7 linked regions of the Homo sapiens genome follow. The protein of the gene in region 7 purifies or fractionates together with the protein of the main gene of each other region. This does not show direct contact. Each region holds a gene or a part of one and is shown on either strand. Other genes may lie near its edges.

Region 1 (4,297 bases), on a different chromosome or scaffold from region 7:
TTCAGTGCACACAACAGGAGAGAGGAGAAAGAAGAAACGCTAGTAATTCCAGTAAGGCTTTTCAGCAATTTAATTGTGGGAGTGAGGTGAAGAAATCATTTTTGAATCAAGATATCTGTTTGGGGCAAGAAATGGTGTCCGTATGAAGAGCACAAAGATAGACCACGCCTCCACTTAAAATTATATATGTGTATGCATGTGTATACCATCAGGAGAGAATAGGTCACGTCTTCTCTGGTGGCAGGTGTCAACAGTAACAGCCTTTTTATAGGTTCAGAACTTTTGATTGATAGACATGGCCATGTTAGACAGCACTTTTCAATAGGAGAAAAGCAGCTGACATTCTACATGTTAACAACATAACTGTTTTCAGGATCATAAACTCTTGTTCTAAGATAGGACTTAACTTTTGTGGAATATTCAGATCTTTAACACTTTTGTAAAAGCTGCAGGCTACTCATAAGCAAACAGAATGAGTGGATGATAATAACATTCCTGTCTTGTAAACAAATGTTCGGTCCACTTTAATACCTTCTCTTTCAGGACAAATGATAGTACGTGTTTATAAGAAATTAGTGCTGTTAGTCTAAGTTCTGTTTTCTCCCCTGTTTATGTTAAGAATGCCCATGTTGTATGCCTCCGTGACCTTATTTTTAATTTGATGTAGAGTAAATTTTCCTGTGGGAAACTTTTATATCACCTAGCACTTTAAAAAAAGGAGACATTCATTAGGTTTATAAGCAAAAGGTAAGAGATAGAAAGGGCACCAGTTTACCCTGCTCCTCATTCCCCAATTCTGTCATGGTCTAGGCATTCCTTTCCTTGGGGAAGATGTGATTGTAGTTCTTATAGGCAATAGCTTGTTGCTTAAGGAGACTCAGAAAGGTTAGGTTTCAGGATACCATCCCAAAGAAAGGTAATAACTGCAGCTGCTCGTTCACTAAGTAGGTTGTGGCTCTTTTGTAACGCCCCAAATCCCACCACATCTCTGTCATAGAGAACCAACTTCTTTATTCCTTCTTCCTCAAGGCTTTATTGGTAGTAGGGACTTATTGGCTCACTTGCTTCTATAACCTATTGAAGGAGAGAAGGGGTTCCTTAGTGGCTCAACTTGTTTATCTAAGGGAGAAAATTCTTAGTAAAGTCTTGCCTGGCTTGTATTGACCAGTACAAGACTAACTTTTGTTGTTGTTGTTATTGTTGTTGAGACGGAGTTTTGCTCCTGTTGCCCAGGCTGGAGTGCAGTGGCACGATCTCGGCTCACCGCAACCTCCGCCTCCCGGGTTCAAGCGATTCTCCTGCCTCAGCCTCCCTAGAAGCTGGGATTGCAGGCATGTGGCACTGTGCCCGGCTAATTTTGTATTTTTAGTAGAGCCGGGGTTTCTCCGTGTTGGTCAGGCTGGTCTTGAACTCCCGACTTCAGGTGATCTGCCTGCCTCGGCCTCCCAAAGTGCTGGGATTACAGGCGTGAGCCACCGCGCCCGGTCGTATAAGACTAACTTTTAATCCTTAATTCATTTTGAGTAAAAGCAATCACTAATTGGCTTTTTAACAGGATAAGGCTCTTAAATGGACACTTCAGTGACCTTTGCAGGGACAGCTGAATTGTATTTAAAAACAGAAGTGTGGTTGGTTTTCTGAAGAGCTATGAAAAAATATGGATTAGTCCCATATACTTTTTTTACTTTAATTTGTAACACACCACCAAATTCGAGTAGATTAGAAATAATGAATAACCCCTAGAAACAGTGTAAGACAGTGTAAAAAGGCAGTATAGAAATGATTGATGCTTGAGCAGGCCCTGATTTTGACATGAAAGAAAGATGGTGGTGCTGTTGTGGAAAGTAGCTGGGCAAATGTCATGTAGTTGAGAACTACTGCAACCAATGAAAACACAGCACTCCTCTAAAAACAGAGTAATTTCTCTTTAAACTCTTAATCGTGTATGTGATTGACTACTTTTCAAGATTTGAAAAATATCTCACAAAGGTAAATTCATTTAACACAAACTGACCTTGTGTTTAACCCCAAACTTCTAAGGATAAATATCACAAAGGTACCTTTTTAAAAACCTAAAAGACTATGTAGATTTTACTACAATTTTAAGTAATTAATAATGTAATATCCTTAAAAAACATTAAATTGTACACTTTAGGTGAATTGTATGTGAATGATGTCTTAGTAAAGCTGTTTTCTTAAAAATATACTCTACAGCAAAATAACATCTTTGCCCATGTTTGTGCTACTGAGAAACTCATTTTGGAAGCCATAACATCTTGCTGTGTGTACACTGCCATATGTAGCCTTTACTCATGCTCCTCAGAGGCTTCCAATTCAGAGAGCTTTCTCAGTGAGCCAATGAGGATGCACATTCCAGCTTTGTGCCTCCTCCTGGGCTGAGGATAGGGCAGGTGGTGAGGTGCACAGAGATAAATAACACATGGCGGTTGTCCTCACGTTATGAACTGTTTGGTCAAGGAGAGGAAACAAGCATAAGAACCAGTCAGAGAATGTAGGCTAGCAAGCACATGTTTGAGTAGATTGCAGCGTGTGAAGAAGGCGGGAAGTTCACACAAAGGGAAGTTCTAGGACAGTGATCAGAAAGGGCTTCATGTCGGAGGGTAGGAACCGAGCTGGCCACCAAGTGGTGGGTACTGTTGACAGGAGAAGGAACATTTTCAGTCAGGCTGCCGAGACAGTGAGCACTGTGGTTCCGTGTCAGGCACATGCGCGCCAAGTAAAGTGTTTTGCATTATTACATGACTGAGGAATGAACTTGATTTGCATGGTCATATAGAATAACTGAGAAATTTGGATACACAGAGTAGGCCTTGATTTTATAGGTCCTTGAGAACCAGGGCCTTAAATACAGAGTGAAAAATTGAGACCTGTCAGAAACTCAAGAAGGTCACATGAAAAACTATTAAAGGAGCTTAATCTCGCCATGGGTATGAAGGTTGTAGTAGATATAGACTAGCTATATGAGCGGTTGCAGTCATTTATGTTTTGGTTAACTATAAATGAGGTGATGCCCCAAAGAATAGAGTGAAATCACTGTATGTAAGAGATTTCAAGGGGACATAGGACAGAGCAAAATGATTTATAACCACCCGAGGATTTAAGATTGCCAATTCATACAAGGGCTGTGCCATTACTAGAGATTAGGACATTATCTCTAGTTTAAGAGGAAAATGTTTAATTTTGGTTTGAAATTTCAGGCAAGTGGAGTTAAGAAACTCTGGGATTTGAATCCCAGAATCTCACTTACTGATCATTCTCAGGCAGGTGGGCCATTTAAACTTTCCTAGTTTTTGTTCTTTTGGTAAAACATGGTGATACCTCATGGGATCTGAGGGATAAATGGAATAATTTGCTAGAGAAGGCATTGTGATGTATTATAGAGAGTTACTTTTGGGTTTATGATGGAATATACATGTTTAACATATATACAACCTGGAGCACAGGTGAGAGAACACAGAATGTAGTTGTAATAGTTTCCTAGGACTGCAGTAACAAATTACCACAAACTAGGTGACTTAAAACAACAGAAATTTCTTCCTTCATGGTTCTGGAGGTCAGAAGTTTGAGATGAAGGTATCAGCAGGTTTGGTTTTTTTCTTGGGGGCTTAGAGGGAGAGGCTGTTGAATGGCTCATTCCTAACTTCCGAAGGTTACCGGTGATCATTCCTTGGAATTCCTTGCCTTATAGAGGCCTCACTCCAGTCTGCTGTCATCTGCACATGGCATTCTCCCCTGTGAGTCTCTGTCTTCATGTGGTCTCGTTATAGGACCATGGTCCAGTAAGACCTCATCTTATTATAGTTGAGAGGACCCTATTTCAAATATGGTCAGTCTAAGGTTCTGGATGGACATTGATTTGGGGGGGACTTCAACCCGGTACACTAGTTAAGAAGAATTTCCAAATAAACCTAACCATTGTGCAATTTCTTTTTCAAGAGCACTGGAATTAAGTTGCCTTCATCAGTGTTTGCTTCAGAGTTTGAGGAAGATGTTGGATTGTTAAATAAAGCAGCTCCAGTTTCAGGTATTTTTAATTGCTTTATCTTTTCATATGGATAAATGTATTTTGCAAAACATAAAGAAATGATGTAGGATTTTTCTATCCCCAGTAAAGTATTGAAACAATTGAGATATGTCTGGAATTCAGATCAGGGATTATTAGGAAGGGATGAATGTGATCTTTGTATTTTTGTATTCCTACCATCAAATCTTTATATCTTTTGAGTTCCTGTTTGGAGAGGAAAGTGGGGAAACTATTCTTGGTAATCTAGTTAGG
Region 2 (4,297 bases), on a different chromosome or scaffold from region 7:
TTTAACATATGTAGGCAATCTTGAAACCACTGCCATAGTCCAGATACCAAACACTTTATCATCTCGAGTTTCTTCTAACCCTCTGCAATATGTCCCTCCACCTCTGTCCTCAGGCAGCCATTCATTTGCTTTCTGTCTCTATGTGTTAGTTTGCTTTTTCCAGAATTTTATATAAGTAGAGTCATCATACAGGATATACTCTTGTCTAATTTGCTCAGCATAATGATTTTGAGGTTTGTTTTTTTGTGGGGGAGGGTTGGTGGAGGGGAACAGTGTCTTCTGCTGTTGCCCAGGCTGGAGTTCAGTGGCACGATAATGGCTCACGGCAGCCTTATCACCTGGGCTCAAGCAGTCCTTCTGCCTCAGCCTCCTAAATACCTGGGACTACAGGTGCTCGCCACCACACCCGGCTGATTTTTAAGTTTTTAGTAGAGCCAAGGTGTCACTAATGCCCAGACTGGTCCTGAACTCCTGAGCTCAAGTAGCCCTCCTGCCTTTGCCTCCCAAAGTGTTGCAATTACAGGCTTGAGCCACCGTGCCTGTCTGAGATTTGTTCTTATTATTGCAATGCATTGGTAATTAATTCGTTTTTATTGCTCAGTAGTATTCCCTTGTATGACAGTATTTGTTTATCCATTCACCTGTTTATTGTGTTGTGTTGTATTTATTGTGATGTATTGTACTGTATTGTACTGTATTGTATTGTGATGGAGTCTTGCTCTGTCGCTCAGGCTGGAGTGCAGTGGTACCATCTCGGCTAATTGCAACCTCTACCTCCCGGGTTCAAGTGATTTTCATGCCTCAGCCTCCCAAGCAGCTGGGATTACAGACACATACCACCATGCCCAGCTAATTTTTTCATACTTTTAGTAGAGATGGGGCTTTGCCATGTTGGCCAGGCTGGTCTAAAACTCCTGACCTCAGGTGATCCGCCCGCCTCAGACTGCCAAAGTGCTGGGATTATAGGCGTGAGCCATCGCACCCGGCCCCATTCACCAGTTTATGAACATTCAGGTTATTTCAGCCTTTGGCTATTATACATAAAACTGCTAAAAAAAATTTGGGTACGGATCATTTCTTTTGAGAAACTGCCTGGTCGGATTGCCAGATCTTACGGTATATTGTAACTTTCTAAGAAGCTGCAAAATTGTTTTCCAAAGTGTTTGTACCATTTTACATTCCTACCAGCTATCGATGAGAATGTCAGTTGCTTCACATCCTCACCAGCACTTGGCATTGTCATTTAATTTTAGACATTCTGAAGGTTTGTCAACCACAGTGACTAAAAATGTTAGGCATCTTATGTGCTTACTATTTGTATCTATTCTTTGGTGAAATGTTGGTACAAAAATTTTGCCCATTTTTTAGTGACTTTTAAATTATTTTTATATGGTTGTAAGGAGTTATTTATATATTCTAGATATAACACCTTTTCCTGCTATGTGTGTTTCAGATATTTTGCTCCAGTTTGTGGCTGGCTTTTTTAGAGGTGTCTTTTTTTTTTTTTTTTTTTTTGAGATGGATCCTTGCTCTGTCACCAGGCTGGAGTGCAGTGGTGCGATCCCAGCTCACTGCAACCTCCGCCTCCCGGGTTCAACTGATTCTCCTGCCTCAGCCTCTCAGGTAGCTGGGATTACAAGCGTGCGCCACCACACTCGGGTCATTTTTGTATTTTTAGTAGAGACGGGGTTTCACCATGTTGGCCAGGCTGGTTTCGAACTCCTGACCTCAGATGATCCACCCACCTCTGCCTCCCAAAGTGCTAGGGTTACAAGCATGAGCCACCACACACGCCCAGAGGTGTCTCTTAAAGATTGAAAGTTTTAAGTTTTATTGAAGATCTCATTTAGAGAGTGCTGTTGTTGGCCAGGCACAGTGGCTCACGCCTATAATCCATTACTTTGGGAGGTCAAGGTGGGCGGATCACCTGAGGTCAGGATTTTAAGACCAGCCTGGCCAACGTGGTGAAACCCCGTCTCTACTAAAAATACAAAAATTAGCCAGGAGTGGTGGCGTGCGCCTGTAATCCCAGCTATTCTGGAGGCTGAAGCAGGAGAATCACTTGAACATGGGAGTTAGAGGTTGCAGTGAGCCGAGATCATGCCATTGCACTCCAGCCTGGACTGCAAGAGAGAAACTCCGTCTCAAAATAAAAAAAGTGCTATTGCTTGTCAGTTGGCTTGGTAGTCTGGTGGGAGTGGGCGCAGCAGGGTCTCTGCTGTCTTGTCTTAGTGTTTCCGTGTCTCAGGAGTGCACCTGATCAGGGCTTTTTTCCCGGGGCAGCCAAGCTGTGCCAAATGCCTTGTACCTTTAGTGGGGATTATGCAGAGGATGTTTCCCACCTCTCCCCCGGTAGCTGGACTCCTCCCTTCCTCCGGCTGTAGGGGTCTTCTCTGTGCCCTGGAGTGACAGGGTTTGCTATCCCTCCCCTAGCAGCTTAGCCTTCTCCTCCATCAAGAGAATGTGTCCGGAATTGGTGGGTTCTTGGTCTCACTGACTTCAAGAATGAAGCCGCGGACCCTCGCGGTGAGTGTTACAGCTCTTAAGGTGGTGCGTCGGGAGTCTGTTCCTTCTGATGTTCGGATTTGTTCGGAGTTTCTTCCTTCTGGTGGGTTCGTGGTCTCACTGGCTCAGGAGTAAAGCTGCAGACCTTCGCAGTGAGTGTTACAGCTCTTAAGGCAGCGCGTCTGGAGTTGTTCGTTCCTCCCGGTGGCCTCGTGGTCTCGCTGGCTTCAGGAGTGAAGCTGCAGATCTTTGCGGTGAGTGTTACAGCTCATAAAAGCAGCGTGGACCCAAAGAGTGAGCAGTAGCAAGATTTATTGCAAAGAGTGAAAGGACAAAGCTTCCACAGTGTGGAAGGGGACCCGAGTGGCTTGCCACTGCTGGCTAGGGCAGCCTGCTTTTATTCTCTTATCTGGCCCCACCCACATCCTGCTGATTGGTAGAGCCGAGTGGTCTGTTTTGACAGGGTGCTGATTGGTGCATTTACAATCCCTGAGCTAGATACAAAGGTTCTCCATGTCCCCATCAGATTAGTTAGATACAGAGTATCGACACAAAGGTTCTCCAAGGCCCCACCAGAGCAGCTAGATACAGAGTATCGATTGGTGCACTCACAAACCCTGAGCTAAACACAGGGTGCTGATTGGTGTGTTTATAAACCTTGAGCTAGATACAGAGTGCCGATTGGTGTATTTACAACCCCTGAGCTAGACATAAAGGTTGTCCAAGGCCCCACCAGAGCAGCTAGATACAGAGTGTCGATTGGTGCACTCACAAACCTTGAGCTAAACACAGGGTGCCGATTGGTGTGTTTACAAACCTTGAGCTAGATACAGAGTGCCGATTGGTGTATTTACAATCCCTGAGCTAGACATAAAGGTTGTCCAAGGCCCCACCAGAGCAGCTAGATACTGAGTGTCGATTGGTGCACTCACAAACCTTGAGCTAAACACAGGGTGCCGATTGGTGTGTTTACAAACCTTGAGCTAGATACAGAGTGCTGATTGGTGTATTTACAATCCCTGAGCTAGACATAAAAGTTCTCCAAGGTCCCACCAGAGTAGCTAGATATAGAGTGTCGATTGGTGCATTCACAGACCCTGAGCTAGACACAGGGTGCTGATTGGTGTATTTACAATCCCTGAGCTAGACATAAAGGTTGTCCACATCCCCACCAGACTCGGGAGCCCAGCTGGCTTCACCCAGTGGATCCTGCACCGGGGCTGCAGGTGGAGCTGCCTGCCAATCCCATGCCGTGCGCCTGCACTCCCCAGCCCTTTGGTGGTCGATGGGACTGGGCGTCGTGGAGCAGGGGGTGGCGCTCCTCGGGGAGGCTCGGGCCGCACAGGAGCCCATGGAGGGGGTGGGAGGCTCAGGCATAGCGGGCTGCAGGTCCCGAACCCTGCCCTGCGGGAAGGCAGCTAAGGCCCGGTGAGAAATCGAGCGTAGCGCCAGTGGGTTGGCACTGCTGGGGGACCCAGTACATCCTCCGCAGCCACTGGCCCGGGTGCTAAGCCCCTCACTGCCCGGGGCCGGCAGGGCCTGCAGGGCCGGCCGGCTGCTCCGAGTGCGGGGCCCGCCAAGCCCACGCCCACCTGGAACTCCAGCTGGCCCGCAAGCGCCGCGCAGCCCTGGTTCCCACTCGCGCCTCTCCCTCCACACCTCCCTGCAAGCTGAGGGAGCCGGCTCCGGCCTTGGCCAGCCCAGAAACGGGCTCCCACAGCGCAGCGGTGGGCTGAAGGGCTCCTCAAGTGCCGTCAAAGTGGGAGCCCAGGCAGAGGAGGTGCGGAGAGCA
Region 3 (4,297 bases), on a different chromosome or scaffold from region 7:
TACCCGCAAATGCAGACACAGAGGACTGTTTAGTTCCTGTCCTTTTCATGTAGTTTATTTTCTTGATCAGATCTCCTATATACATTTCTTTTAAGGGATTTCTGTTAAACTTTTCCCTGTGGTTGTAAATAGGCTCTTTTCTTCTACTGTATTTTCTAATTGTTCGTTCATATATGGGACAGGGTTTTAAAATTTTAGTCTATAGCAGGTCCTCGAAAGACGTTTCATTCAACTTTGTTTTGTTATAATGTTGATGAGAAGAAAAAACAAAAAGTCTCAGCTGAGGTCACTGTCTGTGTGAAGCTGGCTCATTCTCCCATCTTTATGGGTCTTCTCCAAGTACTCCAGTTTCCTCCCATATCCCAAAGATGCACATGAATGGATGTGTCTACGCGGCCCAGTCTGTGAGCGTGGGTGTAGGTGAGAGCACCCTGTGCTGGGATGGCGTCCAGTTCAGGGCTGGTTCCCAACTTGGACTCTGAATTGCCAAGAAAGGCTCCAGCCATTGAGACCCTGAACTGGAAGAGGGAGGCAAATAATTATCTTTTTATTAATCTTTCTTAAATGTATACACAGCTCACATTCATTCAATTTTTTTTTGAGACAGGGTCTTGCTCTGTCACCGAGGCTGGAGTGCAGTGGTGTGATCACAGCTCACTGCAACCTCCACCTCCCAGGCTCAAGTGGATCCTCCCACCTTAGCCTTTGAGTAGCTGGGACCATAGGCATGCTAATTTTTAAAATTTTTAGTAGAAATCATTTAAATTTTTTTTTTTTTTTGAGATGGAGTCTCGCTCTGTCGCCAGACTGGAGTGCAGTGGCGCGATCTTGGTTCACTGTAACCTCCGCCTCCTCAGTTTAAGCGATTCTCGTGCCTCAGTCTCCTGAGTAGCTGGGACTACAGGTGCGGGCCACTACACCCACTAATTTTTGTATTTTTAGTAGAGACGGGGTTTCACCATGTTGTCCAGGATGGTCTCCATCTCTTGACCTTGTGATCCGCCCACCTTGGCCTCCCAAAGTGCTGGGATTACAGGCGTGAGCCACTGCGCCCAGCTCATTTAAATGTTTAATACTAGAAGTGTTTTGGGTTTTATTTAAAAGTTTAGTGATGTTTTTGTTACCAGAAATATGCCATAGGAATTTAACTCTTCTTTATATTAATTAACCTAGGGTAGGAAGCATCATTACTGAATTATTTTATTCTTCAAAGTTTCTCACTTGATTCTCTGGTATTTCCAGATAAAAAATACGCCATTTGCAAAAAATAACTTTCCTTCTCTAATATTTATGCATCTTTTCTGTTTTGCACTTGCTAGGACTTAAATAATGAAATGTTGAGTGATAGTGGGCACAGAGGTCTTGCTCCAACTCTCCTGGGAATGCTAATGTTTAAGTATGATTCCCATTTTTAGTTTGAGATTTTAAAAAATTACATTATTTTTAATTTATGCCTATGCTATTATTTATTCCTATTCTGTTAATAAAGAAAGCAAGAAGACATTAAATTCCCTCAAAAGACTTTTCAGTATCTAATGAATTGATCTCATGCTTTTTCTCCTTTGACCTATCAATACAGTATTAACATAGAGCCACCTTTGTATTCTTAGCATCTTATTTCTAATTATGATTTGATTATCATGAGGAAAGGACAAGAACATAAAGGACAAGAACCCAAGCCTATCCCAACTGCTATATCCTTTTTATTCAGAATATCAAAAAACATGGCCGGGCGCGGTGGCTCACGCCTGTAATCCCAGCACTTTGGGAGGCCGAGGAGGGCGGATCACGAAGTCAGGAGATTGAGACCATCCTGGCTAACAAGGTGAAACCCCGTCTCTACTAAAAATACAAAAAATTAGCCAGGCATAATGGTGGGCACCTGTAGTCCCAGCTACTCAGGAGGCTGAGGCAAGAGAATGGCGCGAACCCAGGAGGCGGAGCTTGCAGTGAGCTGAGATCAAGCCACTGCACTCCAGCCTGGGTGACAGTGCAAACTCCGTCTCAAAAACAAAAAAACAAAAAAACCCACATACAACCCATTCCCATGTTAAGGTTTAACGTCAATCACATCACACAATAAAATTTTTAGGACTAACAGTGTAGAAAATATACGGTAAGTTGTAAGGCTAACATGCTTTTTAAACAGGGTTAGCCTTTCTGAAATAGAAAATGATTCTGTATCAAAGTTCATATTAATTCTGGAGTTGAGAATCAAAGTGAACCAAATGGCCTTGACTGTTCAGGTTTTCAGAATTATACAGTTACCTAGTCATGGAATTACATAAATTATTCTACAAGTTAATAATATTCAACTGATTCACAACACTACTTCAAAATTTTAAAGTTCAAAATCCAAGTCTGGAAGATAGGGGAGGTGCTAGAATCTTGTGATTAAAAAACAAAGCCCTAAGCATAGGAATTAGTAACAAGTTCTGTTCTACGGCACTGTCTTAGTAAAGTGACCAGCTCTCCATTCCTAGAATAAACAGCGTTCATGTTAGGGTGATCCCCCCTTATCTGTGGTTTTAATTACCTAAGGTCCGAACATATTAAATGAAAAATTCCAGAAATAAATAATTCGTAAGTTTTTTGTTTTGTTTTTGAGATGGAGTCTCGCTCTGCCACCCAGGCTAAAGTGCAGTAGTGTGATCTTGACTCACTGCAACCTCCGCCTCCCAGGTTTAAGTGATTCTCCTACCTGAGCCTCTCAAGTAGCTGGGATTATAGGCACGTGCCACCACGCCCGGCTAATTTTTAATTTTTGGTAGAGACGGGGTTTCACCATGTTGGCCAGGCTGGTCTCAAACTCCTGGCCTCAAGTAATCCGCCCACCTCAGTCTCCCAAAGTGCTGGGATTAGGCATGAACCACTGCACCTGGCCAATTCCTAAGTTTTAAATGGGGCAAGAGCATGTTCTGAGTAGCAAAATGAAAGTTTGCCCCCTCCTGCCTAGGACGTGAATCATCCCTTTGTCCAGTGTATCCATGCTGTATACGCTATCAGCCCATCTTGGTTATTAGATCTAAAAAACATGGTATACTTAGGCTTCGGCAGTGTATACAGACTTCAGTTTCAGGGATTCATTGGGGAGTCTTGCAATGTGTCCCCCTAGGATAAGGGGGAACAACTATAATTGGAAGCATTCCAATTTGTTCTTTGGAGAATACTTTCATTAGAAAAGGTGAAAAACAGTTGGACATGAACGTTTCAATATGAGGAGAGTTGCAGAACATAAAAAGTTTAGGTTTTCTAAAAAGCTATTCTAAGCCGCGCTTGGTAGTGTGCACCTGTAATCCCAGCTTCTCAGGAGGCTGAGGTGGGAAGACCGCTTGAGGCCAGTAGTTAAGAGACCAGCCTGGGCAATATTAGTGGCACTCTGTCTCAAAAAGAAAAATAAATAAAAATATAAAGCTATTCCAAAATATCTGAATCATCGCTAATTATTAAGATGAGGCCAATGTAACCTTGAACTCATAAAAACAATTTATACTCAAGAAAGGCTTTCTTTTTTTTCTTTTTGGAATAATCTAAAGCTATTATTTCCAAAACTTTGTTACCATTTTATAGCATGATCCACCCATCATCTGAAAAACAATACTTTTTATTCTTTGAATAGCAAGAATAGTAATTTTAAAACAGTACAAAATGTCTTTTGACATACACTAGAAAAGTAAAACATAACATTTTTGGAAACTCTCATGGCTGTTAGGGTAAAAATCATGGGTCAGGGAGGAGGGTGGTTAAGAGAGTTGAACTCCATGAATTACCAGTGGAGTTCATGGATATTTCAGACAGCCTTCAAATTGTGATGGAGTGATAAACAGTATGGGACTACACAGTGATGAAACCCGGACATGAATCCTTTTGACGGTTATCTTTTGACAAAAAACTTCTCAATAAGAGACCATTTTCCATCTGTAGAAGTTATAATTCCTGCCCACTGCACAGAAAATAGTAACACACTTAATCTATAAAGTGCTATATACATGTTAGATATTTGTTAGGCGAAATTAAGCGAAATCAAAATTTTTGGGTTGATTTGTTTAGTATGGGGGGATGATATGTATCGTACTGAAAATATAAATTAATGGCCGGGTGCGGCGGCTCAAGCCTGTAATCGCAGCACTTTGGGAGGCCGAGGTGGGTGGATTACTTGAGGCCAGGAATTCAAGACCAGCCTGGCCAATGGTAAAACCCTATCTCAACTAAAAATACAGAAAATTAGCTGGGCGTGGTGGAAGGCACCTGTAATCCCAGCTACTTCGCTTCGATAGGCTGAGGCAGGAGAATCGCT
Region 4 (4,297 bases), on a different chromosome or scaffold from region 7:
ATTTGCAGGCGGAAGGGTCGCTGCAAGCCTTTCTGCTGAGCCACGGCTGCAGCTGGTGCCTGGACAGGCAGAAGATGAAGCGTTCGTTCACCTCCCTCCCACATTGGCCGCAGGTCACTGCTGCACCCGCCCCGGCCTCAAACCAACGTTCTCATGCTTGATCAGAAAGGAGCAATCTTCCTTCCAAAGGAGAGCATCCTGACCGGGGAAACACTCACTCGGCGAGGCCACGACCCAGGCCCGTCATTGGAAAAACCAATTTGGAAAGAGCAAAATGACAGAACCCACTCATTGACTAGGACACCTCAGGGTCGATCCAGTTGCCCCATGTATGTGGAGACTGAACAGCAAAACCCCCTTTAAGGCCATTTAAAGGAACACTGCTGTAATCTCAGCACTTTGGGAGGCTGAGGCGGGCGGATCACCTGAGGTTGGGACCAGCCTGACCAACATGGAGAAACCCCGTCTCTACTAAAAATACAAAATTAGCTGGGCGTGGTGGCTCATGCCTGTAATCCCAGCTACTCAGGAAGGCCGAGACAGGAGGATGGCTTGAACCCAGGAGGTGGAGGTGGCGGTGAGCTGAGATCACACCATTGCATTCCAGCCTGGGCAACAAGAGCGAAACTCCGTCTCAAAAAAAAAAAAAAAAAAAAAAGGAACCCTGTACCCTTGGTCACGTGACGCTGAGGGAGACAACGGGCGAGGTTAGTGGCAAAGCGCACGTGGCGAACCGGCACCGCGTGCTCAGGAACACAGGCGGCACACGCCAGCTCTCATGTTAGTGAGGACCACCAGCCGCAGGTACCTGATTAAAATGCTGGCTCACTTCACGTGATAATGAACTCATTGAACTACAGCGCGAAAGCTACAAAACAGCAAGAACACACATAAAACACGGACGAAAGTCAACATGCACGTCACTGTCCAATCCAAGCTGTCAGTTCCATTTCAAAAGCTTTGTGATGCCATTAGAATCAACATAACTCAAAAGGGAAAAAAAAGCCAGTGTTAGCTTAAGATTCCTGTCTTAATGTAAAGCTGTTATCCCGAAACAACCATTAGCTTAGGGGAGGGCTGGGAGGAAAAGTCCAGCCTCGGCCTAAGCCAGCTTCACCTCCTGACACCTCACAATTCAAGACAATTCCCGTGCTGTTGAAGGGAGAGGACCGGGACTGAGGCGACAACTCAAACCCCCTGCACCCCTCCTGGAGCTCCCAAACAGTTTTGTTAAAACAAGTGCAATTTTTTTTCCCCCAGGAACACCACCTTCGAGGTGCTCTTGTTTCTAAACTGCCTCTTCCTACCCAGTACCGCCCCTCCATAAAGGAAGAGGCGCCTGGACAGTGAGCTGCTGGGGAGGCCTGGGCTGCGGGGGGCCCTGGCGTCGGCACTCCTTACCTCTCCTCCCTGGGAACCCTCAGGCCTGGAGGAGGGGAGTTCAGAGCCAGGGAGTGACGCTGCAGAGCTTAAAACCTGCCGAGGAAAAGAAGAATTGCAGCAACCAAATCCCAGGGAATTTAAGTCTCTCACACCAGGCCAAAAAATATGAAACTGTTCTGGCCTGGGTTACAAACGCCCTCTTCCACGTAAAGTGCTCCTCAGAGAGAAGTGAAAAGTGCCTCACACGTGGGTCCAGCCGCACAACCCTGTTGACTCTAGACCCCTGCAGCTCTCTACCAGGTGCCTGTGTGTGCCCATGACAGGCTTGCAATCTGGGGCTACTGTTATTCCCATTTTACAGAGGGGAAAACTGAGGCTTAGACAGGTGAGTGACTGCCCCATGCTTTACACAGCTGATGAATGGAGAACAGGATTAGGCCCAGGCCTGTCCCACCGTACAGAGTGCAGTCTGAGCTGGTTTTTTTTTTTTTTTTTTTGAGATGGAGTCTGGCTCTGTTGCCCGGGATGGAGTGCAATGGCGCAATCTCAGCTCACTGCAACCTCTGCCTCCTGGGTCCAAGCGATTCTTCTGCCTCAGCCTTCTGAGTAGCTGGGATTACAGGCACCCGCCACCACACCCAGGTAAATTTTGTTTTTTTTTTAGTAGAGATGGGGTTTCACCATGTTGGCCAGGCTGGTCTCGAACTCCTGACCTCAGGTGACCCGCCCAGCTCAGCCTCCCAAAGAGCTGGGATTACAGGCATCATCCACCACTCCCGACTGGTCTGAGCTGTTCTACTTCACATGGGAGTCATTTGTTTTTTGTTTTTTTTTTTTGGATGAAAATATACTTAACTTTTATTATCGGTAGGTAATTTCTCTGTAACTTAGAGTAATTAATTTTACTTTTTCCAATTTTAAAAATTGTAAAATATACATACTGTAAAATTTGCCACTTTAATCATTTTTAAGTTTTAAGCACATTCACCGTGCTGAGCAACCATCACCGCCACTATCCCCAGATCTCCGTCTTCCCAAACAGCTCTGTCCCGCCCGGCACCCTGCATTCTACCTTCCGTCTCTACCATACATAAGTGTGAGGCGTTTAAGGCGGAACACTCTACGTACACATTGGATACTGACTTGCAGAAGGCAAGGCCCTGTCTGGCAGGATGGGGAGGTGCCTCCTCACTGGGTACCTTTCCCCTTTCCCACCGTACCCGCTCACCTTGGGCTCTGGGGCAGGCTCTGGATTGGCCAGGCCCCTAGCTGCTGCAGGCCCTTCCCTGCCAGTCCCGTCTGGAAGCTGTGGTTCTTCTGCATCTGGGGATGAGAGAGCGAGGAGGCCATCATTCCGTCCCGAACGTCCCTGGGGTCTCACTGAAGACACTCCGAGAGGAAGAGAGTTTCACACTGCACACGCGGCACACTCATGCAGAAACAGGCAAATCAAAAAAAAAACCACAAACCAACCCCAGGCTCTCTGCATGCTGGCCAGGTCATTCTTTTAACGGGAGATTTAGGAGAGACTCATAGAAAGAGGATCAAAGGTCAGGAGACTGGGGGCTGACCTGGAGGGGCTGGTGCTCGTGCTACCTACCTGGGGTTGGCACGAACAAGTTAGAAGGAATTGGGAGTGGCGCGAGTGGAGCGACAAAGTCCGCAGGAGCGAGAGCCGGCTCGCTCCGCTGGGTCCCGCTTGGGTTCAGGACGTCAACGTAGCGAGCTCTGGTTCCTGCTGCAAAGGGGAGGGAAGCAAATTGAGGTGAACGCGCCAGGTGGCCTCCAGCTTCCAAATGCTCTGCGCTCACTGCGTCAGAGGAAAAGCACGCAGGGACGTGCGGGAAGCCACCTCCTCCCCACGCACAACAGCTACACATTGGCCTCTCTCTCTGGGACAGTTAATCGTTCAAGCAAGCTCCCACTCCAAGGCCACCCTTACCTGCTCTTCTAGAGTACATGTTCACGGGGGCTCCAGGAGGCCCTGGGAGGGCAGGCGGGGCAGCTTGCACAGTCTTGGGCATCGAGGTTGGAGGTGGGGGCGGGGCTTTCTTCTGCAGAGGGAAACACAGCTTCAGACACCCACTGTGTGCACAGAAACCCACTGGGATGGCACAGTCAGGAGGCTCCAAAAGGGGCAACAGCCACCCAAATATCACAGGGCCACATGAGGCTGTTCCCTCCACTCACACCTCACACCCAACAGGAACTAGAATGACAATTTACCTCCTCTTCTGGCTCATTTAAATTCACCCACTGGTTTTTCTTTTCATCCCAAACAATCTGCCAAGATTTTAAAAAGAAAAAAGGTCAGCAGACTGAACCTAAACAGAATTAGCATCTGATTAATGATGACACTTCAAAACTTCAGGAAACACCTACTCAGGTCTGCTCTGAAAGTGACAGAAAAATCATTACAATTCTTCGGACGTCCCGTGCGTATTTGACAGCACTCACCGATTTGTTCTTGTCATCTGGCAAATAAGCTTCTGTCTTTTTCTTTCCAGGTAGCCAACGAAAGAACCAGGATTCACCCTAAATATAAAAAACACGAGAACAACTTTGAAAACATTATGTTCCATGAAATAAGCCAGGGCAAAAAGACAAATTCTACATGACCCACTTCTGTGAGGCCCCAGAGTCGCCAGATCCACAGAGACACCAGGAGAATGGAGGTGGGAGCAGATCCACAGAGACACCAGGAGGATGGAGGTGGGGAGCAGATCCACAGAGACACCAGGAGGATGGAGGTGGGGGGCGATCCACAGAGACACCAGGAGGATGGAGGTGGGGGGCGATCCACAGAGACACCAGGAGGATGGAGGTGGGAGCAGATCCACAGAGACACCAGGAGGATGGAGGTGGGGGGCAGATCCACAGAGACACCAGGAGGATGGAGGTGGGAGCAGATCCA
Region 5 (4,297 bases), on a different chromosome or scaffold from region 7:
CATTTCAGCCATTCACTGGGGGTTTTGGAACGTATCTCCTGCAGGTAAAGGGAGACTACTGTTCTTAGAGACAAAAGATGATAAGAAATGGTTTTATGTTGTATTTGTGGCCTCTATTGAAGCCCAAGGAAATCATAAAAGATTTCAACTTGAATACCTCCAAAATGTCATGGTTAAATCTCCATAAGTACACATAAAAAAATGTCCAAAGCACATTTGAAATTAAGGTTTTATAAGGTATAGCTAACATTTTTAAGAACATGTTATGTGTAAAATTCTGTCACAGATTTATGCCTATCTCAGATGTTGTGCAAGGCGCCTCATGGCTTCCAGGTACACATTCCACCACATGGACACATTTCAGAACTGTTATCTATAGCTAATTGAAAAGACTAAAGAATTAAGCTCTTCTCATGGAAGAAAGGAAAGTAGGACTTAATGTCCTGACCTTGATTTGAGAACTATATTGTTGTAGAACATACTGAAAGGTACATGTTTAATAGCTTGGGAAAAATCTTAAAAAAAAAAAAAAAAACACAGTTTTTGAACCTGGCCATGTCACTGAGTCTAGTACATGACAAACCTAGGAAGTTGGTAGCAGAACACAGGGTCAAAATAAAATACAAGAAATCACTGTAGCCTGATAATCTGCAAGACACACCAAGCAGACAAGTGGTAAGACAGTGGGAAGTGTGCACACATTTAAAGCAACAATTCTGAAATGTGTCCATGTGGTGAAGTGTGCACCTACCTGGAAGCCATGAGCACCCTGCAGAACACCTGAAACATTGATAAGTGTAAATCTGTAATAGAAACTGAGAACATCAGAGCTAAATGACAACTTAGGAACACAAAGGAGGAGACAGCAGACACTGGGGGAGGGTAGCAAGAGAGAGAGGAGCAGAAAGATAACTGTTGGGTACTGGGCTTAATTGGGTCCTGGGTGATGTAATAATATGTATGACAAACCCTCGTGGCAGGTGTTTAACTGTGTAACGGACCTTCACATGTACCCCCAAACCTAAAATAAAAATTTAAAAAAGAAAAACAACCTAAGAACAATTTTATACCTATCATGTTATTTAAAAGTTAGATATACCATATAAAATTTTAATTCCAAATGTGCTTTGGACATTTGTGTGTGCAACAACAAAAACAAGCCTAATAAACTGAGTTTGGGGGATTTAAAAAATATTTCTTCATCCAAAGGGAATATTTACCTGCTATTTTGGTGGCAGGCACTAAAAATTAAAGTAGTTTCTGGGAGCAAAATTCAAAATTGAGAAATTTTCTTCATTTGATTTTTTTTCTGTCAGTGAAAATTAGTTTATTTTAGTGATAGACTGTATATTCCATGAAAGAGTGGTATAAGAGTGCTATAAAAAGCCTGGGATAAAGCAACAGTGAGCAAGAAAACAAACTGTTAATGAGTTTTAATGATAAAGAGTTTTTGCTGGCCTGAAAGTGTCTGCAAGGCAGTCATCGATTCCCTATAAGCGAGGTGGACCCTCCACTTGGAAGAAGGCATTTCACTGTACCTTACTTAGATGAGGATGCGGGGACAAAAGTTTACACCTCTCTTAATGAGTACAGCCTTATGGACACAAGACAGTCTGGATCATAACAGGCCACTAAGTAGGCTGTACAGTCAGATGCAGCAGGTTCTCAGGAGCCAGTCAGCCTTGCTGAGCACTGGTAGTGGTATCTACTGCAGTGGTACTCTGAAACAGCAGTACCAGAAGGTACTAGAGGGAGAAAGCAGAGGCAGAGAGTGTGCAAGGGCCACCATCAGAAATGATCCAGGCCTCTTGGACTGAATCCTAATAATTCATTCAGTCATTCAGTAAATGTTTGAATTCCTGCTATATCAGGCCCTGTTCTGATAGCTGGGAATATAGTCAACAGTAGACCTCATCCCTGCTTCCATGGAACACATATTGAGAGAGCTTATATTATAATTGGGCCCACAGATAAACCACTTCATTAAATACTAAGAGAAAGCTTCACTAAATTAGTCTATTATGCAAATAATTTTAAAGACAATTTAAGTTTTACTTCAAACATAATTCAGTCTGGGTTAATATTCGTATGCATTTGCATTCTCTGTCCACAGTAACTCCTGCCTTCAGGAGGCATTCTAGAAGGATTCAGCTCTTAAACTGTGTGCTGTGGTGGTTACCTACCTGTTCACAATGCTTTTGATGTTGTTCCAGTAAAAGAGTGATCTGTAGCGTTTTGTTTTCCTCAGTATTAAGCAGACATTAATTGTCTTCATTTCCATTGGCAGAGCTTTTATCTCAGTTATCAGGAGTGAGACGTTCTGCAGGAGGACAGCTTAATTCCTCTGGCCCTTCCGCTTCTCAGTTACAACAACTGCAGATGCAGCTGCAGCTAGAACGGCAGCATGCCCAGGCAGCACGGCAACAACTGGAGACCGCACGCAACGCAACCCGGCGTACTAACACAAGCAGTGTCACCACTACAATCACACAATCCACAGCAACAACCAACATAGCTAATACAGAAAGCAGTCAGCAGACTCTACAGAATTCCCAGTTTCTTTTAACAAGGTAGCTCATTTGTTAATAGAATTTTGTTTGGGAAGTAATATTTTATTGCCACTACAGTCTGGAATTATCTTTTCTCTTTTGTGCATTATATTTCTTTAAAATTTTGTGTTTGATTAAAACTCACAGATCTCTGATTAAAACGCATATTCAGTATTTCCCCAAGAATGTGAAACATAGTAATTATTTTAGATAAATTAAGAATACTGGGCCAGACCCAGTGGCTCACACCTGTAATCCCAGCACCTCACACCTGTAATCCCAGCACTTTGGGAGGCCAAGGCAAGCAGATCGCCAGAGCCCAGGAGTTCCAAACCACCCTGGGTAACATGATGAAATCTTATCTCTACAAAAATGAGCCAGGTGTGATGGTGCGCACCTGTAGTCCCCGCTACTCAGGAGGCTGAGGTGGGAGGATCGCTTGAGCCCTGGAGACAGAGGTTGCAGTAGCCAAGATTGCACCATGCACTCCAGCCTGGGTGACAAGAGTGAGACCCTGTCTCTAAAATAAAATAACTGGTCTTGTTCTCAAGGTATATATCATCATATAATATGAATTGTTTTGCCATAGTACCCATAAAACTTAAACACTATATCATTATATATATATGGTTCATATTAGGTGTATTTATCATAATTAACGTTGCTTGTTATTGCCAGTTTTAATCTGCTTTGAAATATTAAAAGTATAAGAAGGATTTCATAATACAGTGGCAGTTTTCTCCTGTGAATTTCTAAAAAAGCTAGATTTAAATTTTTATGGTTGGCACACAAAAGTAACTTAAAAAAATGGCTTCCTATGGTATAAATAATATTTAGTAAAACAGTAAACTACTCTACTAGATGGAGTTCTTGTTTGCTTCTGAAACTGTTAGCAACTGCATGTATTTGTCTGCCAAAACTTCACAGGCATTTTATGTGACTTTTAGGAATATAAAGAATTCTTAAAAGAGCAATGATGAGTGGAGACTTAGCCTCAACAGATAATGAACCTGGACTAATTGGGCTTTTAAGGGAGCAGAGAGGAACATAAAGGAAGAACTGTAAAATGAAGAATAAAGTTTGTGTAATACATGATTATTTCCAAAATGCAGTGTGTATGACAATTCATTGGGATGTTAGAGGAAAATATTATAATTTCTACTTATGTTTCTTTTATCTCATACTCTGTTAATACAGTGGTGCATGTGTATAGTTATAAATAACATATTGTGGGTGCAGAATAAAAAATGCTTGAAAATCCCTGGGCTAGAGCCCCAGCTTTGCCAATTACAAGTTTTGGACCTCAGGCAAGTCATTTCACTCCTCCAAACCTCAATTTTATCATCAGTATCCCAGAAGTTTTGCCTTTAGAGAGATAATTATTTTGAGGATTAAATGGAATACTGGTATGTGTATGGTCTGGCTCACTATCTGGCCTATAGTAAAGGTCCAATTAATGGTACTCGTTATCAACATTTGTTATGAAACCAAGAAAAACATTTTAAATGGGTAATTTACCTTTGAATTATCTCTGCAAGGTCAGTAACTGTGCCTGGTTATTACCAGATAATGCTGCTTTAATGTAAGAAAACCACAGAGCCACAGATGGAGCTACCTGCTGCCATGTAGCCTTCCCCATAGGGACTGACCAGCAGCAGGTCTATAACATACCAGATCTAAGTCCCTACCTCAAAAAGGAGATCTACTAGCGTGCATTTCTACTGAGAGTTCACAGAACTGTGGGTGGA
Region 6 (4,880 bases), on a different chromosome or scaffold from region 7:
TGTTGCATGTTTCCCCGCATTCTTAATGAGATTCATTAAATATGATTCAAGTTTCTTGATATCTTTATTATTTTCATTCGCTACTGTGTGATGTTCACATGACATACATAAGGCTCTATGAACCAGAATTTGCTTTCTGAAAATGTCCTCTATGTCAATCAAGTCTTTGTGTGTATTTTCCCCCGTCCCTCTCAAAAATTAAGTGAAGCACAGCACATCTGTAGGCTACCTGAGAGGTGCAGCGTGGTTGGTTTTCTTCACAGTTGCTAAACGAAAGGCCTACTCTTCTTCAGTGAGATTTTTTTACTCTCTAGAACAGCAGTATCCATAGAAATATAATGGAAGCCACGTAATTTAAAATTTTCCAAAACATTCTCATTTTGACATGTAAGCAATATAAAATTAATGAAATACTTTACATTCTTTTTCTTTTCAGACCACGCTTTAGAAATCTGGTGCATGTTCTACACTTAGAGCAGACCTCAGTTCAGACTAGCCACTTTTCAGGTGGCCAGTGACTACTACACTGGACAGTTGCAGCTCTAGAAAATCCACTCCCAAACCCCTAAGTGAACTACATACTCTATCAATTTGTAGCTTCTACTCTATCTCATTTGTACCATTGTTTCACAATTTGGATAGCATTAGAGTTAATAAATTTTATTTTAGCAACTCTGCTCCATGGGTAGTTTCTGAAATAAAAATACAAGCAAAAAAAAAAAAACTTTCCTAATAACACTGGTTCTACAGTATAAGCTCTCCCTCGAATGTCTAATAGAGCTTTCGTAGAAGTGAGTGTTCCTTGTAGGAACGGTGAGTCGAGACTGGAGGTAAGAACTAAGACGTTCTTAAACCCTACTACGTGCTGGAATCCTGAAGTGCCTGCCATCATTCAAACTTAAGCACTAACTCTCTAGAGAGACACTGCCATTCATACCACAGAACGAGAAGGCAGTGGCGATCCTCAACGGCTACATGTCACTGCCTGGTGAGCACTCTTCCCTCAGACCCCATTCCCAGAAGCTCTGCCTCGATTCCCCAGGGGTAGGCGAGCTGGCTGCCCGAATTCCTAAGCGTTACCGGGGAGATGTGAGGGCCTCCGGGGGCGGGAAACCTCAGGCCAGGCGCGCGCTGGCCCGCTCTACGGGGTCTCTCGGGAGCGCTTTGCAGGGCGGATGACTGACGGGCCAGCTACCTGCCTTCCTGAGCCTGCAGAGATAAACAGCCTATCCTCCCTGTGCACACAGGCCCCGAGGGCGGGCAGGTCTCCAAGCGCAGCACAACTGCCCCAGGCCCGACGCAGCCACCTGCCCGAGGGCTCCCTCCCCACCAGGCCATCCCTCAGCCGGTCCTCCTCCGACAGCGAACAAGGAACCCCGGAGGCGCGGAGGCGTCTCGCCGCCACCCGGCGGCGCCTGCCAGAGGCCCTTCGCGATGTCCGCAAGCAGAGAAAGCCCTGCCCTCCCAAGCCCCGGCTTCCCCTAGGCCCCTCGACACTTGTAGTGTCCTCACTTGCGGCCCCTGACCCGGGGCTGACCGGTTCGTGACTCTCCTGCCAATCAGAGACAGAGTTCTTCCGGCCAACCGGCCAATCACCGCGCGCGGGTGTCCGCTTCGGCTTTTCGGCCCTTCGGCTCTTCGGCTTGTCGGCGTTCGCGGTTGTTTGGCCATCCAGTGCCTTCAGCAGCGCCGCTAAAGCGCAGTTCTCGTTGGTGTAACTTTTTCTTTTTTTTTTCAGCCACTTCCGGCTCCTGCGTCGCTCCGGAAGCCTGCGAGTTCCGGAAGCCTTGGTAATCCAGATTCGGCTAGGAAAAGACAAGCTTTCCAGAGAATGTTTCAGAGAAAGTTACGTGGAGCGTGGGCGTTTCGCAGACTCCTAAGGTCAGTGTCTGCCCTAGAGAGCCGGAGTGCAAACCCGAGGTCTTGTTTTCAGCTGGGAGGTCGTGGAGTTTCACGACCTTGTAATTGTCGCCGTTTGCTTTTTTTTCCCTGTTTATTGGCTTCCTGTCTCCCTGGAAAAGGCAAATCAAAGCTGCTGAATTTTGGGAAAGGCAGTGAAGCAAACCTAAACTCCTAAAGATGTTTTTAGGATCGCGGCATTAAAAATAAACACACACACAGCTGCAGTTGAGCCCCTCTGCATTCCACGTAGTAACTTAAGAGACGAACTTCGAAATCTTTTTCTCTCATTTGGCGGTCGTGAAGATATTTACCTCTTATAAACGGCTTTATAAAGAATTGAGGATCCAAACTTTACTTAATATCTGAAAGTTCATGTAAAGTGTTATATGTAGTACAAAAAATTTGAGTGCTTAGTTTTCTAACACTGTTGAAAGCGCACGTAAATGCAGTTTGGTTTTCTTATGGAGGAAGAGATAATGAAAAGTTTCTGATAAAATTGCTTGCGATAAATTAGTTATATTTCACGTTGACTTTTGATAAGAAATCTGAATGTGAGAATTGTTAACATTTTTTCCTGGGTTCTTAAATTAAAAATCGTTGTTTGTTTATTTATTGAGGTACCATTTTCCAAATTTCCCACATTTAGTGAAAGGGCTTTTGGCAAAATGAGCAAGCTGTTGAACGTTCAAGTCTAACACATTCTGTTAAACTTCCGTGATGCCCCTCGGAAATATTTTATCTTGACGTTTCGGACAATTAAATGATACTTGGGCGCTCACAACACCGCAGCTTGTAGTCTAAACACCTTCCCCTAAAGTGTTACCTTTACTTAATCCTGAACAGAATGAACTTGGGGTGGCTCTTTTAACTTATCTGATCTCACCTATATTATCAATTACTTGTTTCCAGAAAGATTACAGTTGAGTGATCTTGAGCCAGAAAGAGATTTGAAAGAATTATTTACAGAGTCAAAAAAAAAAACCCTTCATATTTTTTTCTTAAAAAAAAAAATAGAAGTAACAGGACATAGAGCGAATACTAGACTAGTAGACTGAAGAGTATTAGACTAAATCAAGACAGTTGGATTCTAGTCCTGACTCTAGTTGCCTTTGTACAATTTTACCTCTTGGCCGTATTCTCCTTATTTTTAGAAACTAGTGTTAGTACTCAAGCTGGGGTTTTAAAACTGTTCCATAGGAGAACTTGTGTAGAAATTTTCTGGAGCCGTGCAGGGAGAGACAAAGCAAGCCCACCCTCAGGTTTATTTTAACAAGAGCAGCCATTTAGGTGTTCCGCTTGAATAACAAGGTTCTTGTTAAGAAGATTAAATTTATGTCTTAAACGAGATGATCTGCCTTTTCTTCTAGCATTAAAATTCTGGTTTTTGGGATAATTATTCATTTGTACTCAATGTACATTTATTACAGTTTTTAAAAATAATATATTCACAGCTAATTTATTTCTAAAAGCTACAAATATGTCCCTATTCTGTTTCAATTTATTTTATCAATACAAATTTGAAATGTTTTTCTTTATGAACAGAATTAGAATTTATTATTCCTTCTTCTCCATATCCTTTTATTTTAGCCATAAAAGTTTTGCTTATATTTGATGCACATAATGATTCTTGCCGTAGGGAGGACAAGTATTTTTCATTTTACATATTTGGTACCTGAACGTTAAAGGTATTAGCAGGCTTGCTCATCATCACACCCATTAAAAGAGCTCAGTCCTAGCCCCATGTTTTTCTCACAACATCAAATAATTGTAAGTTTCTTTCCCTCTTGCACACCATCCACATTCTCAGGTTCCAATAGCACAAGGAAAATGTGTGAATGTACACAATCTTTATTTCTGGCCAGAAGTTCTCTCTTGAATTATTTCATTTTTTCCTCTTTTGATGATCTGAGTTGGACAACCTAGAAGCAAATTGGATGTTCTCTGTACCTCTTTTCTGTGAAGTGATAACAGTTTGTAAATGTTTCATGTTCCTTTTCTATTCCTTTGGAATGTACAAGAAACCTCAGGAGAAAAGCCCTAAATTGCTCCATTTGCCCTGTCTGTAATCCTGCTCTTTTAAACCCAGCCCTGTAGTTTCTTTACATGGAAGTGGAGGCAAAGAAGGGATGTCTAGTGTCCTCTGCCTTTCTCCGTGTGGGATATTAGACTTCTTCCTAACATATTCCCATCTATACAATAAAAATACCTTCTTCTATGTTGCTTCTTACTCAATTTAATATATTTTCTTTTTATCAGACATCTCCCTTATTACTGCCTGTCAATAAGATGAGATAAAATTCCATCCAAGTTATCTTTTCTTTCTTCTTACTAGTAAAACAACCAAGAACTTAAGTGTAATGGTGTTTTGATTATGCCTAACCACTGTCTTTTCATTTTTTTGAGACAGAGTCTTGCTGTGTTGCCCAGGCTGGAGTGCAGTGGCACAGTCTCAGCTCACTGTAACCTCTGCCTCCCGAGTTCAAGCAGTTCTCCTACCTCAGCCTCCCGAGTAGCTGGGATTACAGGTGTGCACCACCACACTTGGCTAATTTTTGTATTTTTAGTAGAGACAGGGTTTCACCATGTTGGCCAGACTGGTCTTGAACTCCTCACCTTAGGCGATCTGCCCACCTCGGCCCACTTGTCTTTTAGTGTTAGATGAATGAGTTGGCATTACCTCTACCTTGCATGTATGTGTTCGTAATAGTTAATGTTCACACCTTGAGTTTTTCACTCATCTATTCCTTTTGTTCAGATTTGACATGGTTCTTTGAATGGTCCTTTGACCACATGTATAGTGAAGCAGGGAGAAGGAATATAGACAAAATACATCCCAAGCAACAAGGAAAACTTTACCTCATTCCTTTAATTTCTTTCCCCATCTACAGTCCTGACAGCTTGACTGGCAGTCTGGTCTTTTGAATGATCTTGAAGGGGAAAAAGATTTCTTTTGAGTTCTGTGGGATTAAATTTGATCC
Region 7 (4,297 bases):
AAGCCTTTATCCTAAGCTTTTTCCAGTCCTAAGGGCGCTTTCATTTCTGTCACCTTCTCCCTTTACCATCTTTCCACCAAGAACATCCTGTTATTAACCATCACAACGAATCTGCTTTCTTTTCCAGCACTGATCTCTCCGATCTTCTCCTCCCTACACTGTTGACTGGGTATGGAAGTTAGAACTAGGTTACTGATAACACTAGGAGCTGCGGGCCTGGAAATCCTGAGTTCAGCCCAGTGACAGTCTGTGGCCTGGGATTCCTCCTGGGCCCAAGCAAAGAGAACTATTCACTCCACAGCTGCCAGAGGCTTTTTTTTTTTTTTTTTTTAATACTTGAGAACATTTAAGTTGTTGTGATGGTTAATATTGAGTGTCAACTTGATTGGATTGAAAGATGCAAAGTATCGCTCCTGGGTGTGTCCATGACGGTGTTGCCAAAGGAGATTAACATTTGGGTCAGTGGACTGGGAAAGGCAGACCCACCCTCAATCTGGATGGGCACAATCTAATCAGCTGCCAGCACAACCAGAATAAAAGCAGGCAGAAGAACTTGGAAAGACTAGACTGGTTTAGTCTTCTGGCCTACATCCTTCTCCCGTACTGGATGCTTCCTGCCCTCGAACATTGGACTCCAAGTTCTTCAGCTTTGGGACTCAGACTGCCTTCCTTTCCCCTCAGCTTGCAGACGGCCTATTATGGGACCTCAGCTTGTGATCGTGAGTCAGTACTCCTTAATAAACTCCCTTTTATATATACATCTATCCTATTAGTTCTGTCCCTCTAGAGAACCCTGACTAATACAATTGTGTTACAGGGTGGGCTTTGGCCAAAACAAAACAAAACAGAACATGGAGTAGGAAGACAGAATAGGGTCTCTGCCTGCCCACATGGGAACAGGTTTCCCCTTGGTCATCTACTGGGCATGGTACAAAGGCCATGTGGATTCCCTGGCCTCTGAACAGAATGCAGTGGCACTCCCACGCTGGAGGCTGAAGTACAGAGTTATGCAGAGGAAGAAAATTTCTTGGAAGAGAGAAAATTTCCAAATTAAGGTACATTTGAAACACTCGAGGCCATGAATCATAAACTTCAATATTGAAAAACCTCAACTGAAATCACATGAGTCATAAAAGGAGTTCTCATATTTAGATAAGGATTATCTGGCTTCCAAGCATCCTCTTTCCCCAAATTCAATCAGTTCTCCACGCTATCGCTTTAAAACCAGGCCCAAGTTTTCACCTTTTAGCACCTTCCCTAATTCTAAGGATTTTATAATTTTTCCAAAAATCTATTTGACTTAAGGGCAGAAATGCTACTTTATTTATACATTGTTTATACTCTCTTCTACTTCTAAAATTACTTTGAGAGATCACATCCACTGAGCGCTGTGGCTTTTTGAACTTGTTAACCCTTTCCTAGATGTTAAGGTACACTTATGGTATAGCAAGTGACATGAAGAGAGGAACAGCTTGTTGTTGCTATTGTTTTCAAGGAAGTGAATGAAGCATCAATACACCACCTCAGAATGACCATAAAAGAGCGTTCAATGTATATGAGCCTCACGTTACAACTTGGCCACACACTGCTAGTGGGTATATAAATAATACAAGTTATCTGGAAAGCAATTTGACAGCATGCGTTGGGAACCCTAACAATGTTCACGTACAGCCTGTAGCCCAGCACATAGATTTTAGAGATCCAGTTTAAGATAAGAAACAAGACGTTATCCCATTTTTTTTTTAATATAGCAAAGGTACCTAAAACAACCTAAACCACACAAATAAGGAAATGATTACATAAATTATTGGACATCCACGTGCCATCTGCCTGGTTATGTCTCTAAGGCCATACATAATGCTTGATACATGCTAAGATCTCAGTAAATATTTAATAAATTTATGATCAAATGAAATAAAATGTAGCTAGGAAAATGTTTTCAAAGAATATTAAAGTGTATGAGGAAATAAGCATGATTCTATCTTTTCAAAAATAGTAAAAAGATTGAAAGGAAATATACTAATGCTGACAAAGGTCAACTCTAATTAATTTCAGTAATTTTTTCTTATTAACATTTCCACTCTGGAAACTGTTCTGCTTATGTCCTGAATGAATGGACATGATCTGTATTTCAAAGTCAGCTAATCTGTGATTTATTTCAAATCAATTCAATTATGCTTATGTAATTTATGTACATAAGCCTATGTAACTCCATTCACACAGTACCTTCAGGAAAAATATATTATAGAGATTAATTCTCAGTCTTTTACCACATCAGGCAATTGAGTTAAGGATATTTTAGCACCCCCTTCAAAGAATCATGAAAGATATCCATTAATCTTCAAAATGCCTTACATAATTAGGAAAATGAAAAGTTTCTGATTTTCCACATTCACAAAATAAACATTTACTTACTCATATTGATCTAAGTTGTTTGATTTCTTTCCCGTTACGTAATTACTTGGGATATATCCTTCATTCCTAGAAATAAGAAAAATACTTTAGGTAAACTTACTTTACTGGGAGGTTATTGAAAGAAAGAAAGATTATTGCCTTTTGAAATAAAGCATGACATTGCTTAAAGCTTATTATAAGAAAGACTAGCTGACCCCCCAAAATGCAGTATCTGTAATTCACTTGACATTTTACAAAGTACTTTCACTTTTGGTCTCCATAAAAATTCTGCGGTAGGCAGGCATTATTGTACCTATTTTCTGGTGGGGAAACTAAAGCTTAGAAAGGTTATAGGATTTTTTTTCCCAAAGGTCCTAAAGTTAGCCAGCAACAGGGCCAGAACTCAAACTCTGGACTTGTGACTAGCTCCTGTGCTCCTCCAACATTCCACAATACTTCTCCAGAATTCACAGTTTTGCTGATATGTGTTAAAGAAACCATTACTTGAGAAAAGTCAAAGTGTTGGATTAAAAATACCCACCACTCTAATACCTCAATAGTTCTTATAGAATAGTTTCACAAAGGATAATTCCTGGCCTTTCGGTCAGTATCATTTGGGGCACCTGTTAAAACAGCAAATTCTTGGGTCATAACCCAATAAATGTGAACTGAGAAGACCTATGTGAGGTCAAAAAATGTCCGATTTTACCCCAAATGACTTTCACACACATCACAATTTAAGATGCACTCTTATGTAAGTAGGAGCTAAGGTTTTCAGCATAAGAAAACAGATATACATATAAAATTTAAAAATTGAGTAGAAACCTTATAATCTTAAATTTGAATTTAAAGTATTAGTAAGAACTCATAATACACACACACACACACAAATGTGTGCATACAGGTAGCTCTGTTGCACTGAGAAAGGCCCAGAAGGAACGGCAATCCAGCAGCAGTTAAGATCTTAGCATTGCCACTGTCTCTAAATACCATTTGTGACTAAAAGGAGCCAGTCCCCCTTAGAAAAATGTCAAATTGTGTCCAGGTGCAGTGGCTCACGCCTGTAATCCCAGCACTTTAGGAGGCCAAGGCAAGCAGATCACTTGAGGCCAGGAATTCAAGACCCGCCTGGCCAACATGGCGAAACCCTATCTCTACTAAAAAATACAAAAATTAGCTGGGCGTGGTGGAACATGCCTATAATTCCAGCTACTTGGGAGGCCGAGGCACAAGAATCACTTGAACCTAGGAGGCGGAGGTTGAAATGAGCCGAGATCACGCCACTGCACTCCAGCACTCCAGCCTGCGAGACAGAACGAGACTCCATCTCAAAAAAAAGAAAGAAAAAGAAAAGAAAAGAAAAATGTCAAATTGTAAGTTTGGCCAGAAAAATAAATACAAGATAACTTGAGCCATTTCACTGAGCCAGAAAGTAGGAAAGAAAAACTAACAGGATCCTCTACCAAAAACAGCCACCATCGACCTAATTTGGCCAATTCAAGCAAAGAGAATAATGGTGGCAATGGATTGGAACCAAATATATAAGTATCCATAATAACACTAAAAATAAACTGTTGGTTACCATTGTTATCACTAGAGAAAGCTCAGTCATCAACTCATTATTCTGAAAACTAGTAAAAGTTTAAGAATCCAAATTTCATCTTTCCTTTCCTTCATGAACTAAATGAACTGGTATATGAGGCAGTTCTTCTTTAGAGAACTACTAAATGCAGATGGAATGACAAAATTAGGAAATCACCATTTTGTAACCCCTAATGAAATAATGACTCTAAGAAAGAATCATTAATGAACCCCCAAATCATCAGGGTAAATACCAATGAAGAACTTTATGACAGAGGAACAAGTCTGACACCTGAACCACTAAGCAATCTTAGCATTACTA

What was found.
Region 1: the proteins of TEC (region 7) and LTV1 purify together in Homo sapiens (affinity purification with mass spectrometry; one large-scale study listed by BioGRID and IntAct). This does not show direct contact.
Region 2: the proteins of TEC (region 7) and RBM34 purify together in Homo sapiens (affinity purification with mass spectrometry; one large-scale study listed by BioGRID and IntAct). This does not show direct contact.
Region 3: the proteins of TEC (region 7) and MAPK1IP1L purify together in Homo sapiens (affinity purification with mass spectrometry; one large-scale study listed by BioGRID and IntAct). This does not show direct contact.
Region 4: the proteins of TEC (region 7) and SEC16A purify together in Homo sapiens (affinity purification with mass spectrometry; one large-scale study listed by BioGRID and IntAct). This does not show direct contact.
Region 5: the proteins of TEC (region 7) and KCMF1 purify together in Homo sapiens (affinity purification with mass spectrometry; one large-scale study listed by BioGRID and IntAct). This does not show direct contact.
Region 6: the proteins of TEC (region 7) and PEX2 purify together in Homo sapiens (affinity purification with mass spectrometry, with the first as the bait; one large-scale study listed by BioGRID). This does not show direct contact.

The regions. Positions count from the first base shown.
Region 1 is NC_000006.12:143,846,174-143,850,470, forward strand, and holds part of LTV1 (protein LTV1 homolog), read left to right. Parts: coding exon 1-51; intron 52-3,957; coding exon 3,958-4,045; intron 4,046-4,297. UniProt on the Homo sapiens protein: Essential for ribosome biogenesis.
Region 2 is NC_000001.11:235,140,145-235,144,441, reverse strand, and holds part of RBM34 (RNA-binding protein 34), read left to right. Parts: intron 1-4,297.
Region 3 is NC_000014.9:55,054,238-55,058,534, reverse strand, and holds part of MAPK1IP1L (MAPK-interacting and spindle-stabilizing protein-like), read right to left. Parts: intron 1-4,297.
Region 4 is NC_000009.12:136,444,244-136,448,540, forward strand, and holds part of SEC16A (protein transport protein Sec16A), read right to left. Parts: intron 3,919-4,297; coding exon 3,841-3,918; intron 3,667-3,840; coding exon 3,610-3,666; intron 3,438-3,609; coding exon 3,326-3,437; intron 3,122-3,325; coding exon 2,984-3,121; intron 2,773-2,983; coding exon of another isoform or gene 2,707-2,772; coding exon 2,612-2,706; intron 1,477-2,611; coding exon 1,402-1,476; intron 869-1,401; coding exon 809-868; intron 1-808. UniProt on the Homo sapiens protein: Acts as a molecular scaffold that plays a key role in the organization of the endoplasmic reticulum exit sites (ERES), also known as transitional endoplasmic reticulum (tER).
Region 5 is NC_000002.12:85,047,079-85,051,375, forward strand, and holds part of KCMF1 (E3 ubiquitin-protein ligase KCMF1), read left to right. Parts: intron 1-2,287; coding exon 2,288-2,570; intron 2,571-4,297. UniProt on the Homo sapiens protein: E3 ubiquitin-protein ligase which accepts ubiquitin from an E2 ubiquitin-conjugating enzyme and then transfers it to targeted substrates, promoting their degradation by the proteasome.
Region 6 is NC_000008.11:76,996,991-77,001,870, reverse strand, and holds the start of PEX2 (peroxisome biogenesis factor 2), read left to right. Parts: upstream 1-1,792; 5' UTR 1,793-1,881; intron 1,882-4,880. UniProt on the Homo sapiens protein: E3 ubiquitin-protein ligase component of a retrotranslocation channel required for peroxisome organization by mediating export of the PEX5 receptor from peroxisomes to the cytosol, thereby promoting PEX5 recycling.
Region 7 is NC_000004.12:48,161,287-48,165,583, forward strand, and holds part of TEC (tyrosine-protein kinase Tec), read right to left. Parts: intron 2,482-4,297; coding exon 2,416-2,481; intron 1-2,415.